Regions from separate parts of the Homo sapiens genome. Here region 1 is linked to region 2. Evidence: fine-mapped expression QTL. A gene starts in region 2. The other region holds a variant in brackets. All regions are shown on one strand. Distances are between the middles of the regions.

Evidence for each region.
Region 1: its variant is fine-mapped to the expression of PITPNC1 in fibroblasts (GTEx, PIP 0.93).

Annotation. Positions count from the first base shown.
Region 1 is chr17:67,419,059-67,424,427 of GRCh38, reverse strand. The region is part of intron 1 of PITPNC1 (phosphatidylinositol transfer protein cytoplasmic 1); the gene reads right to left. Among named protein-coding and RNA genes, the nearest start is that of PITPNC1, 44 kb to the right of the region's middle. RefSeq lists an enhancer at 1,815-3,014. The variant C/T (reference allele first, on the strand shown) is at 2,177.
Region 2 is chr17:67,374,924-67,380,292 of GRCh38, reverse strand. PITPNC1 (phosphatidylinositol transfer protein cytoplasmic 1) reads right to left here and starts at 3,012. Exons shown (of 9, transcript NM_012417.4): 1 at 2,091-3,012. The coding sequence starts at 2,138. RefSeq lists silencers at 1,158-1,517, 1,628-1,927, 1,938-2,357, 2,708-2,957, 3,008-3,127 and 1 more and an enhancer at 2,513-3,206.

The sequences.
Region 1 (5,369 bases), 44 kb before region 2:
GCCTCGGCATCCCAAAGTGCTGGGATTACAGGAGTGAGCCACTGCGCCCAGCCAGCCCAGTTTTCTTGAAGGTCAAGTGGTAATCTTGCATAGTTATAGTTTGGATTAAATACGATGGTGACATAGTGCCTACATCACAGTCCCTCTTATGCCATTCTTCCTCTTCTTGCTGGAAGAGAAGTCCCAACTCTTAAATTCTCTCCCTCCACCTTGAAAGTCCTTTCTCTATTGGCTTCTACCATACCATTCGCTAGTTTTCCTGCTTTTTCTCTGTCCATCCCATCTCACTTTTATTCTTGAGCTCCTCATCCTCAACTCTATTTTTTTTTTTTTTTTTTTTTTGAGACAGTCTCCCACTGTTGCCTAGGCTGGAGTCACAATTCTAGAGAGGTCATTTCTTAAGTGGCATATGAAGAGTTGTAAAATGTAACAGGAACACCAATAGGTTTTGGATTGGTGTTAAACCAATTTCAGAGAAGTGTGACTTTCAGGACTGCAAGAAATCTACTTGAAACCTCTTCTGTGAAACTGATCCCGAAGTTTCAGCCCTGAATCCAAATGAGGACAGAGATGCCCAAGAGGGAGCATTGCAACTCTCCACTGTGGGACCTGGGCCACATATTCCCTCCTGGCTTCAGGACAGAAATCTGTAACTGCTCTTGAAGGAGCCACAGAAACGCTCTTCTTTTCTTTAGCAACTTTCTTCCATTTGTCCTTTGCTCCAGAACTATAGGATGGAAACCCACAAAGACATACCTGGGCGCACATCCATCCTTATTCAAATGCAGGTGGACCTTCAGGGAGGCTGAGGCAGGAGGATCGCTTAAGCCCAGAAGTGCATGGTTGCAGTGAGGCATGATTTCAGGTAGACTTTCATTTAAATGAGCATGGATTTGCGCCTAGTCAGGTCGGTTGAAAATACTAGTAATCAGATTTGAAAATACTAATATTCAGGTTTCGCCACCTCTCTGTACCAAGCCCACATCCTTGCCTTTAGAAAGTCAGGCCTGCTAGGTGGGGTCACCGGGGTGCTCCAGGCAAATATCATCCCCCTCTCCCAAGGTAAGGGCCCTGCCAGGCAATGGAGAGTATTTCTCCAACACACCATGTTTCCAATATCTGTCAGAGAAAAGACCTGATTCAACTTGTATCCAGTGATTTGAAAGCTAAACCCAAATCTCAATGTCATTCTGACAATATTTCTATTAAATAAAATCCTCTGTTTCCTTGGGGGCTTTTAAAATCAATCTGCCACAAAAAGCTTCCGAACAAGTTAATAACGCAGACGTGCTGACTCACACTCCCCAGCAAGCACTCCTCCATGAAGAATCAATGGACTTTGTTCAACATATCAAAACAGTTAGCAGTTGAGCCGTAATGCAATTAAAACACAGCTCTTCCTTACCCAACTCTTCCTCATGTTAAAAAAAAAAAAATGCTAGCATACTGAACTCTTGGGAGTTACAGAATCAAAATCTCAGATGAGTCTGTTAGAGCTGAACTAACATTTACTAAGTGTATATCACACCAAAGACACTGAGGCACGTACATACACTACCCTGCAAACTAGACATTGTTTGAGTAAGCTAGACCGGCGTGGTAGCTCACGACTTTTATTCCCAGCACTTTGGGAGGCTGAGGTGGGCAGATCACGTGAGGTCAGGAGTTCGAGACCAGCCTGGCCAACATGGTGAAACCCATCCCTACTAAAAATACAAAAATTAGCCGAGTGTAGTAGTCTAATCCCAGCTACGCAGGAGGCTGAGGCAGGAGAATCTCTTGAACCTGGGAGGTAGAGGTTGCAGTGAGCCGAGATCACACCACCGTGCTCCAGCCTGGGTGACAGAGCAAGACTCTGTCTCAAAAAAAAGAAAAAAAGAAAGACAGTGAGCAAGCTAGGGCTGGGCAGGTGGGTGTGGTGGCTCACACCTGTATGTACTCAGGAGGCCAAGGCAAGAGGATGGCTTGAGCCCAGGAGCTCAAGACCAGCCTAGGCAACATAGCAAGACCTCATCTCTATTTTAAAAAATAAATAATGAGGAAATTGAAGCTTAGAGAGTTGAAATGACTTGTCCACGGCCTAATAAGACAAAATTGGGATTCAAACTCAGTCTGTCTCCAAATCTCTGTCTCTCCATATGCCACTCACCTCCAACTCTATGCAATGGTAAGTAGA[C/T]AATGTCAAAGGAATGTATTAATAGCCTTCCTTCCTCCTAGGATGGGCCTGGGAACATGCTGTTTTGTTTTTCCCTCTGCCCCTCCTTTTAGTCATTGGAAGCGTATGTTGGCACATCCTTCTTTCAGATGATGTGGTTTAAGCCTTCTTGGGTACAGTCACAATTGAGTCATACTTCCTGCAAGTCACACCAGCTCACCTTGCCTGAGTTCTAAGGGTTCACAGATTCTTGGCTCATCTCGCACTGTAAATTTCAACTTCAATTCGAGGTCATTTCCTGTTGGCCTCATGTGTCACCTACATGCATAATTTGCCTCTCAATGTTATTCCTGGAAGGTCTCTCATTGCCTTGGCTGTGTTAGAGGGTGAGTCCCATCAAGGAAGGATTTGGTGGCTTATTCGCCGCTGTATTCCCAGAACTTGATAAATATTTACTAAATAAACAGATTCTGCATCTTTGCCACATTTCTAGGAGGTAAGGAAACTAAGACACAGGAAAATTAAGGTTGCTTTTCTATGACCACACAAGAATGAGGCTTCCTGGAATTGGATGTGAGAACAGCCATAACTGGGGTGAGGGTACCCATCTGACACAGCAACCCAGCCTTCCCAACACCACACCGTGAAGACTTTAGAATAACAAAAATGGGTTTCAAAAGTTACCATTCTAGCCTGGTACAGTGGCTCACACCTGCAATCCCAGCACTTTGGGAGGCCGAGGCAGGTGGATCACCTGAGGTCAGGAGTTCAAGACCAGCCTGGGCAACATGGTAAAACCCCATCTCTAGTAAAAATACACAAATTAGCCAGGCGTGGTGATGAGTGCCTGTAATCCCAGCTACTCAGGAGGCTGAGGCAGGAGAATCGCTTGAACCCAGGAGGCAGAGGTTGCAGTGAGCTGAGATCACACCATTGCACTCCAGCCTGGGTGACAAGAGCGAAACACCATCTCAAAAATAAATAAATAAATAAAAGTTACCGTTCTCTGTTTTCAAGTCTTTGGCACCAAGACAAAAGACATCCGTCTTCTATATGAGCTGTATGTGTGAATGACTCCAACAGGGAGTGAAAAACTAACAGTTCCTGCTCCACCTGCCAAGTTCTCACTAGCACCATCAAGAAGAAAGCTTTCTCTCAGCCTACCTGGAAGGAAGGAAGCCAGGGTGGAATGCGCAGAGATCTCCTGAAATGTCATCTTCCCTTCTGCACCCAGAAGGACCCTAAAGATCCCCCAAAAGAGACTGGAGCCCAGTATATTCTAGCTAACATGATGGATAATGTATCATTCATGGCTGGTGAAATTCTAAGTAGCTTCATAGTGAATTCTGCCCCCACATTAGACATTCCTGACTTTGCTTCCATCACATATAGTTAGTATGAGTAAAGGGCTATTGATTGATCAGAAGAAACACTGGAAAGTAAGTCTGAGTGCCAAAACACTAAGTGCTTCTACAACGAGAAAATATACACAAGTCAGGAAATGCAATGGAAATAAAAACACAAGTAGAAAACAGAAGTGAGGCCGGGCGCAGTGGCTCACGCCTGTAATCCCAGCACTTTGGGAGGCTGAGGCGGGCAGTTTACTTGAGGCCAGGAGTTCAAGACCAGCCTGGCCAACATAGCAAAACCCCGTCTCTACTAAAAATATAAAAATCAGCCAGGCGTGGTGGTGGATGACTGTAATCCCAGCTGCTTAGGAGGGTGAGTGAGAGGCTCGCTTGACCCAAGGAGGTGGAGGTTGCAGTGAGCCGAGATAGCGCCACCGAGCTCCAGCCTGGCAACAGAGAAAGACTCAAGAAAGAAAAAAAGAAAGAAAAGAAAAGAGAAGAGAAGAGGAAGGAAGGAAGGAAGGGAGGGAGGGAGGGAGGGGAGGGAGGAAGGAAGGAAGGAGAGAGAGAAAGAGAGAGAGAAAATAGAAGTGGCTAATTTCTGTACACCCCCAAGAATTTAGAAATTTGGTCACACATTGAGATTCTTTATTCCAGTGCTTCTTGCTGTACCCAGGGGCACTTAGTAATTCCTGAGAACCCTGCACTGGAGGTTTTCAAATCATAATTAATACAAAACTTGTCATGAAAAGACTCACTAATCACTGATCTATAAAATATATTCTCTTCCACAGAGTGCCTTTTTTAGCTTCACTCTGAAAAGCATTGCTTGTTTCTACCACCCCTCAGGGATCAAAGACGGACTCATGTCAGGTCCAAAATGCATGAAGCAAAATGAGACCATGATTTGTCTCTGATAACTTTGTGCTTTACGGATGGATAGACAGATGTGGATGGTTTTGAAACAAAGGGGTTCTGGTTTTCTCTCTCTCTCTCTTTTTTTTTTTGAGACAGGGTCTTGCTCTGGGTCTCCAGCCTCACTCAGGCTGGAGTGCAGCGGCACAGTCTCGGCTCACTGCAACTTCCACCTCCCGGGTTTAAGCAATTCTTCTGCCTCAGCCTCCCGAGTAGCTAGGATTACAGGTGCTTGCCACCATACCCGACTAATTTTTGTATTTTTAGTAGAGACGGGGTTTCGCCATGTTGGCCAAGCTGGTCTCGAACTCCTGACCTCAAGTTATCCGCCTGCGTCGGCCTCCCAAAGTGCTGGGATCATACGCTTGAGCCACTGCGCCTGGCCTCTTTAATTTATTTTTTCTAATGAGTTGGTCTATTCTGTAATTCAGGAAAAAGAGTGTCTTCCCTTTCTCGGAATTTTCCTGATACCCTACTTAAGGTCAAAACTAGAAAGTGTCCCAAGTAGGTAGGGAAGACGGGCCAGCTCTTACATTAAAGGAGGTACTGAACCCACCACACTTGAAGCAATGACGGAGAAGGATCCTCGAGCCTGGCACTGCAACTTGAAATGATGTTTCCTGGATAGAAATCTGTCTTAGTAGGAAATGCATCATGTCTGCGTCCTACTCCAGAAATAGGAAACTTCTAGAATCTGTGCCAGTGTGGTGGAACTGATGGAACCATTGGGAGAGCTTCCATTTCTCCACCACATGTACCTACTTTCCCCCTCACTCCCTGCTCCTGACTCTTTGCCAACCCCTGTTGCATCTTTCTGCTTTCTCATTTTTTTTTTTCTCCCTTCCTCCTTCTCCCCCAAGCATGCTTTTACTTATAGTTGAAAGCCACAGTCTCTGCTTAATACCACTGAATGTTAATCTGGACCAACAGGTTGCTGTCCTCTGCCCCTT
Region 2 (5,369 bases):
GACCAGCCTGGCCAACATGGTGAAACCCCGTCTCTACTAAAAATACAAAAATTAGCCAGACGTGGTGGCAGGCACCTGTAATCTCAGCTACTCAGGAGGCTGAGGCAGGAGAATTGCTTGAATCCAGGTGGCGGAGGTTGCAGTGAGCCGAGATCTCGCCATTGCGCCCCACCCTGGGCAACATAACAAGGCTCCATCTCAAAAAAAAAAAAAAGAAAAGAAAAGACAAAAAAAAGGAAGGAAGGAAGGAAGGGCCTCCACCTATATCATTCAAATGTAATTACCCCACGGTATACCTGTGGGTATTTCGGTACAAAAACAAAAGTGGGAAAAGCATCTGCCTGAGTGTTTCAGAAAGCCTGAAAAGGGAACCAACTAGGATAAAGAGATTTTGTAGTTAGTAGAGAAGATTCTAGAACTGGTTCTTTTCTTGATTATCACCTGCAATTTTCTGTGTATTTCATGCAGTCCCAACATTGCTCCTAGAATCCAAACTCATATCAAAAAACAAGGTCATTAGGATATGGAGTAGAGGGATCCATGCCTCCCAGCTGAATTACTCTAGCTCAACTGCCCACAAGGTGGGACAATCTCCACCTTTTCTGGAAAGACTCCTATTAACCAGTCCCATTCATTTGCCCTTCTCTTTCTCCACAAAGCTATGTCCTGCTTCTCCACTTACAAGGTCATATGCAACTCGAATCTCTGTCTACCCACCTGGCATCCACCCTTCCAGACCCTGCTTAAATGCTACCTCCTCAAATGCCAACGAACTCCAAAACTCGGTTGTTCATTCTGGTGGAAGCTGATCTCTCCCTCCTTGGCAGCCTGTGTCCCCGTGATGCGTTTTGTAAACTTGCAGCTACTTTGATCTTGTCTTGGATTGTACTTGGGTCTTACCTTAACCCTTGGTCCAGATGGCAAATACGGACAGCCCCTGTGAGCTCAGCCATGTTCTCAGTTATGCATCTTTTTCTCTCCCAAAGCACATCGCCCCTCTCACCAAGTAGTGGCTCAAAAACATATCTGATAGTTTCGAGGCACCAGATTTAAATATAAAGACGGTCTGGGTGGCTGATTTCATGTGTGTTGCCACACCAAACCACACTAGTGAGTTTCACGTTGCCTTGCTTGGCTTTGGGCTCCCTCGCTGTCCCTGGACAGAGACGCTCAGCAGTCGTGGAATCACCACAAAGGTGGGGAGGAAGAAGGGGAAGAAAGGGAAGCCGGGGCCGGAATAATCCTATCTGAGTCACCACTTCCTGAATACTGGAGCTCGCGGCTTCGCAGGATCGGGAGAAGGACAGCAGAGCCGCGCTTGGAGGACGAGCCCCCGCCCCGCGCCCGGCGCCCCCAGCCGGCAGCCGCGGCCCCGGCACCACGTGCTGGAGCGCCCTCCTGTGGCCGCGTCGCAGCCCCCGCCGCTCCCGGCTCGCGCGCCGCTCCCCGCGGCGGAAGAAACAAGAGACGCAGAAAGTTTCCGAGCCAGGCGGTTTGCGAAAGGACACAGCCGGGTCCCGAGCCTCGAAGGGCGGACGTGCCGGGAGCTGCGCCCAAGCCCGCGGCGACGGCGAGAAGTCGGGCCCCGCAGGGACCTCCCCTAAGGGCTCAGAGGTTCCTCCCGCGGGGCTCGGGGCGTGCAGATCCCGAGGGCGCAGGGCTCCTCCTCGCACCCCTACCTGACCGCAGAGGGCGGGGAGGGGAGGCTGGGCCCACGGCCAGGACGGGATGCCCCCCAAACCCCAGCTACAGCGCGCGCCGGGGGCTCTTGGGTTTGGTTTATTCATTTTCTTATTTGGAGGGAGGGGGCGCACCCACTCCCTTTGGCTCATAGTGATCCCCAACAGTCTGGATTCTGGGCGCCCCCGAAAAGCCCACCCGGAGTCCGCCGCCCCACCCAGCGCCGCCCTCCCCCGCTGGGGTGACAAGTGGAAGCCGCAAATCCCCTCCCTCCTCTCCTCCAGGCTTCGGGTTTGCGGGGTAACGTCCACCTGGGTTTCCTGCCGCTCGCCCGGGGCTCGCCGGCCAGGAGGCGGCGGTAGCGGCGGGGGTCCCGGAGCGGGCGAGGCCGGGCCGGGCGCGGCGCTTACCTCGTCTACGGTGAGCGGCATGCAGATCCGGTACTCTTTCAGCAGCATGGTCCTGCCGGCCGCGGACCCCCGGGGCGGGAAGCGGGGGGCGCCCCCAAGACCAGCAAGGCTGCTGCCCAGGCGCAGGGCAGGGCGCCCGGAGCCCGGCGCTCGGAGCCGGAGGGCGAAGCAGCCCCCGCGGCGCGCTCAGCTCCTGGCTTCCTCCTCTCCGCCCCAGAGCATGTCAGGGTTTGGGTCTGGGTGTTCGCAGCTCCCCCGCCTCCTCCCTCGCCGAGGCCGGTCCTCCCGGAACGCGGTGTTGCAAAGTCAGGGAGGCAGGGAGGGAGACCCGCTGGGGACGACTCTGCTCGGCTGCCCAGGGTGGTAGGAGCGGCCGCCAGATCAGGACATGCCCGGCAGCGAGCGAGGGAGGAAAAAAGAGAGATTTCCAAAAATTAAAACGAATGCACAAAAGTCACCCGCTCGATCCGCCTCCGAAAGCAGACGGGAACCTGGCGACCCCCCTCCTCCGGCGGGTCTGCCCGATGCTAATGTCACCAGGAACACATTGCAGCCGGAGCCGGAGATGCTGACTTTCCAGACAAAGGCTCGATCGGCTTCTCTCCGCGGGCGGTAAACAAGATTTCCTGCTCTTTTTAGGGCCGGTCCCCGCGCCGCTCCGGGGCTCGGCTCGGGGAGAAAAGGGAAGCCGCCGCCGCCGCCGCCGCTCGGCTCTGCCCGGCTGGGGCCCCGGGCGCCTCCAACCTCGGCTCGCGGCTGCCAGGGGCGGGCGGGAGGAAGCTGGCGCCTTCCGCGCGCGTCCCCTCCCCCGAGTCCCTCGGCTCCCCGGGCGCCGTGCGTGCCCGCGAGTTTGCAGCCACCTCGCCGGGGCCGGAGCGTCCGCGCCGATGCAGTGTGCCTGGGGCCGGGAGGTGGGTGCGGGAGGAGCGAGCGCGAGCGAGGCTGACATCAGCAGCGGCCGCGGCGGGGAGGGTAGCCCCATCCGGCCAATGGGGAAATGGCAAAGAATGTGGAGGATTTAAACAAAACAGCATGTCTCTGCCAGACGGCGGGGCTGCTCCGGAGCGGAGCCCGGCCGGCGCTGGGGAGGCTCGGGCAGAGGGGCTTTCCTCGGCTCCTTTGCCCTTTGAATCCGCTCTCCATTGTGCCCTGAGTGCTGCCGTGCTCCATCCAGCCCCTCTGGGAAGTTTCTGGTCCCCTGACCCTAGGGACAAGTCACCAATGCCCACCACCTATGTGTGGTCCAGTAAGCAAGTCTGGGGCTGGAGAGGCAATGGGTGGGATTTGGGAACAAACCCTTGCCTGGTTTCAGAGGAGAGATCCTGGAAAACTGGGAAGTGCAGCCGTGTGAATGGAAATGAAGTACAAACGGGGAGGGAACAACCAGAGAGAACATGAACCCCACGTAGCCTGTTACCTCGCCTGGCCCGGCTCTGCAATCTTTCTGCAGATTGTGCAGGCTCCGCGCAGCAGAAAGAAAGAGTAGGTTTTCGTATCCGCACTCCTAAGTTCAAAAAGTCACAGTGAAATGTCAATGAAAATGCCTGGAGTGTTGCTATTTGATCCATATTAAACAGATCTCTCATTTTAACCACAAGAAGCACATTCTTCAGTTACTCAGGAAGCAGCATGGAACTGCTGAAGTCTGTTTTTCATTTGTCTGGTATTTTTCAGCTTGTTTTTATGAAAAGTTGCCGGATGAAAAATGCATCAGTTGCCTGTATGAGAATAACCTGTAAGCGTTATCTTTTCTCCGAAAAATCTTCACGCTCTGAAGTCCTGAAGCTAGAGCTTAGATGGCGATGCAGATGCCTCAATACAGTATTTTGAATTGTGTTTAATTAATAAGTAATTAACCAATATGACGATGATGGGCTTGTGGCAAAAGTCATCCAGAGGGCTGGAGAGAATTTATAACTGTTAACTGATACAAACCCTCCTAGGAAAATGATACCCTATATCCAGCTTATATTTTAGTGGAAACTATTTTCCAGATAAATGCTTTCCAGAGTTGGCTCAGAAATATTCACAGCAACTAATTAAAGCTAAACCAAATTCCTCGAGGTGGAAAATCTAAATCTGACACTGCAGTGTTGAATAATAACACATTGGAAGGCTGTGATATGGAAAGAAACTCAAGCTGTTTTTCCTTTTTTTTTTTTTTTTTTTGCTTCTTACTTGAAAACAAATGGAAGACCTAATAATCTTCCCAGAGGCAGGAAGGCAAGGGATTGGCTAGCCACACATGCGCATGCACTTGGGACATCGGGATGTGTAGGCTCAGTTCCTGGCTTCCTGGACATTTCCTGACACTGATTCTGGAAGGAAGTATTCTACTGACGGGTGACACTGTTGAGGAGCTACTTCTCTGAATTTCCCGAACTGTAAATTGTCACATATATGCTTCCTCCATCATCCGTCTTGTTGCTGTTATTGGTTTGTGATGGAGTTTCGCTCTTGTTGCCCAGGCTGGAGTGCAATGGCATGATCTCGGCTCACTGCAACCTCCACCTCCCGGGTTCAAGCAAGTCTTCTGCCTCAGCCTCTGGAGTAGCTGGGATTACAGGCACCGGCCACCACGCCTGGCTAATTTTGTATTTTTAGTAGAGATGGAGTTTCACCATGTTGGTCAGGCTGGTCTCAAACTCCTGAGCTCAGGTGATGGCCTCGGCCTCCCAAAGTGCTGGGATTACAGGTGTGAGCCACCGCGCCCAGCCCACCCCTCCTGTTGTAAGGTGACTTCTCCATTGGATTCTCATTTTCTTTTCATTCATTGCATCCGCAAACCTGGTCATATTAATCTTGTGCAAGTACAGCTCTCATCCTGCCACCTTCAAACCTTTTAGTGATTCCTGGCTGGGCTCGGTGGCTCACCCCTGTAATCCCAGCACTTTGGGAGGGGAGGTGGGCCGATCGCATGAGCCCAGGAGTTCAAGACCAGCCTGGGAAACATGCTGAAACCCTGTCTCTAAAATTTAAAAATATATAAAAACCTTTTAGGGCTTCTCTATGGCCTACTGAGCAAGTCAAAATGCTTTGGTAGGAGGTTCAAGGCTCTGGATCTACCTTTCCCACATTAGTCCATTACCCTTCCCAGCCCAACTCCAGCCAAATGAGACGAGTCAGTTGGCTGCAAAAGCCCCTCCTCCCCGGCCACCTTTCTAGCTCAACCCTTCTGCTGTTCAACCCGTTGCCTTCACAGAGAATCCCTCTCCCCAATTCAATCCCCATGACACCATTTTAAAGCCAGGCCTTGGCAATCTGCGCTTCAGACAGTGG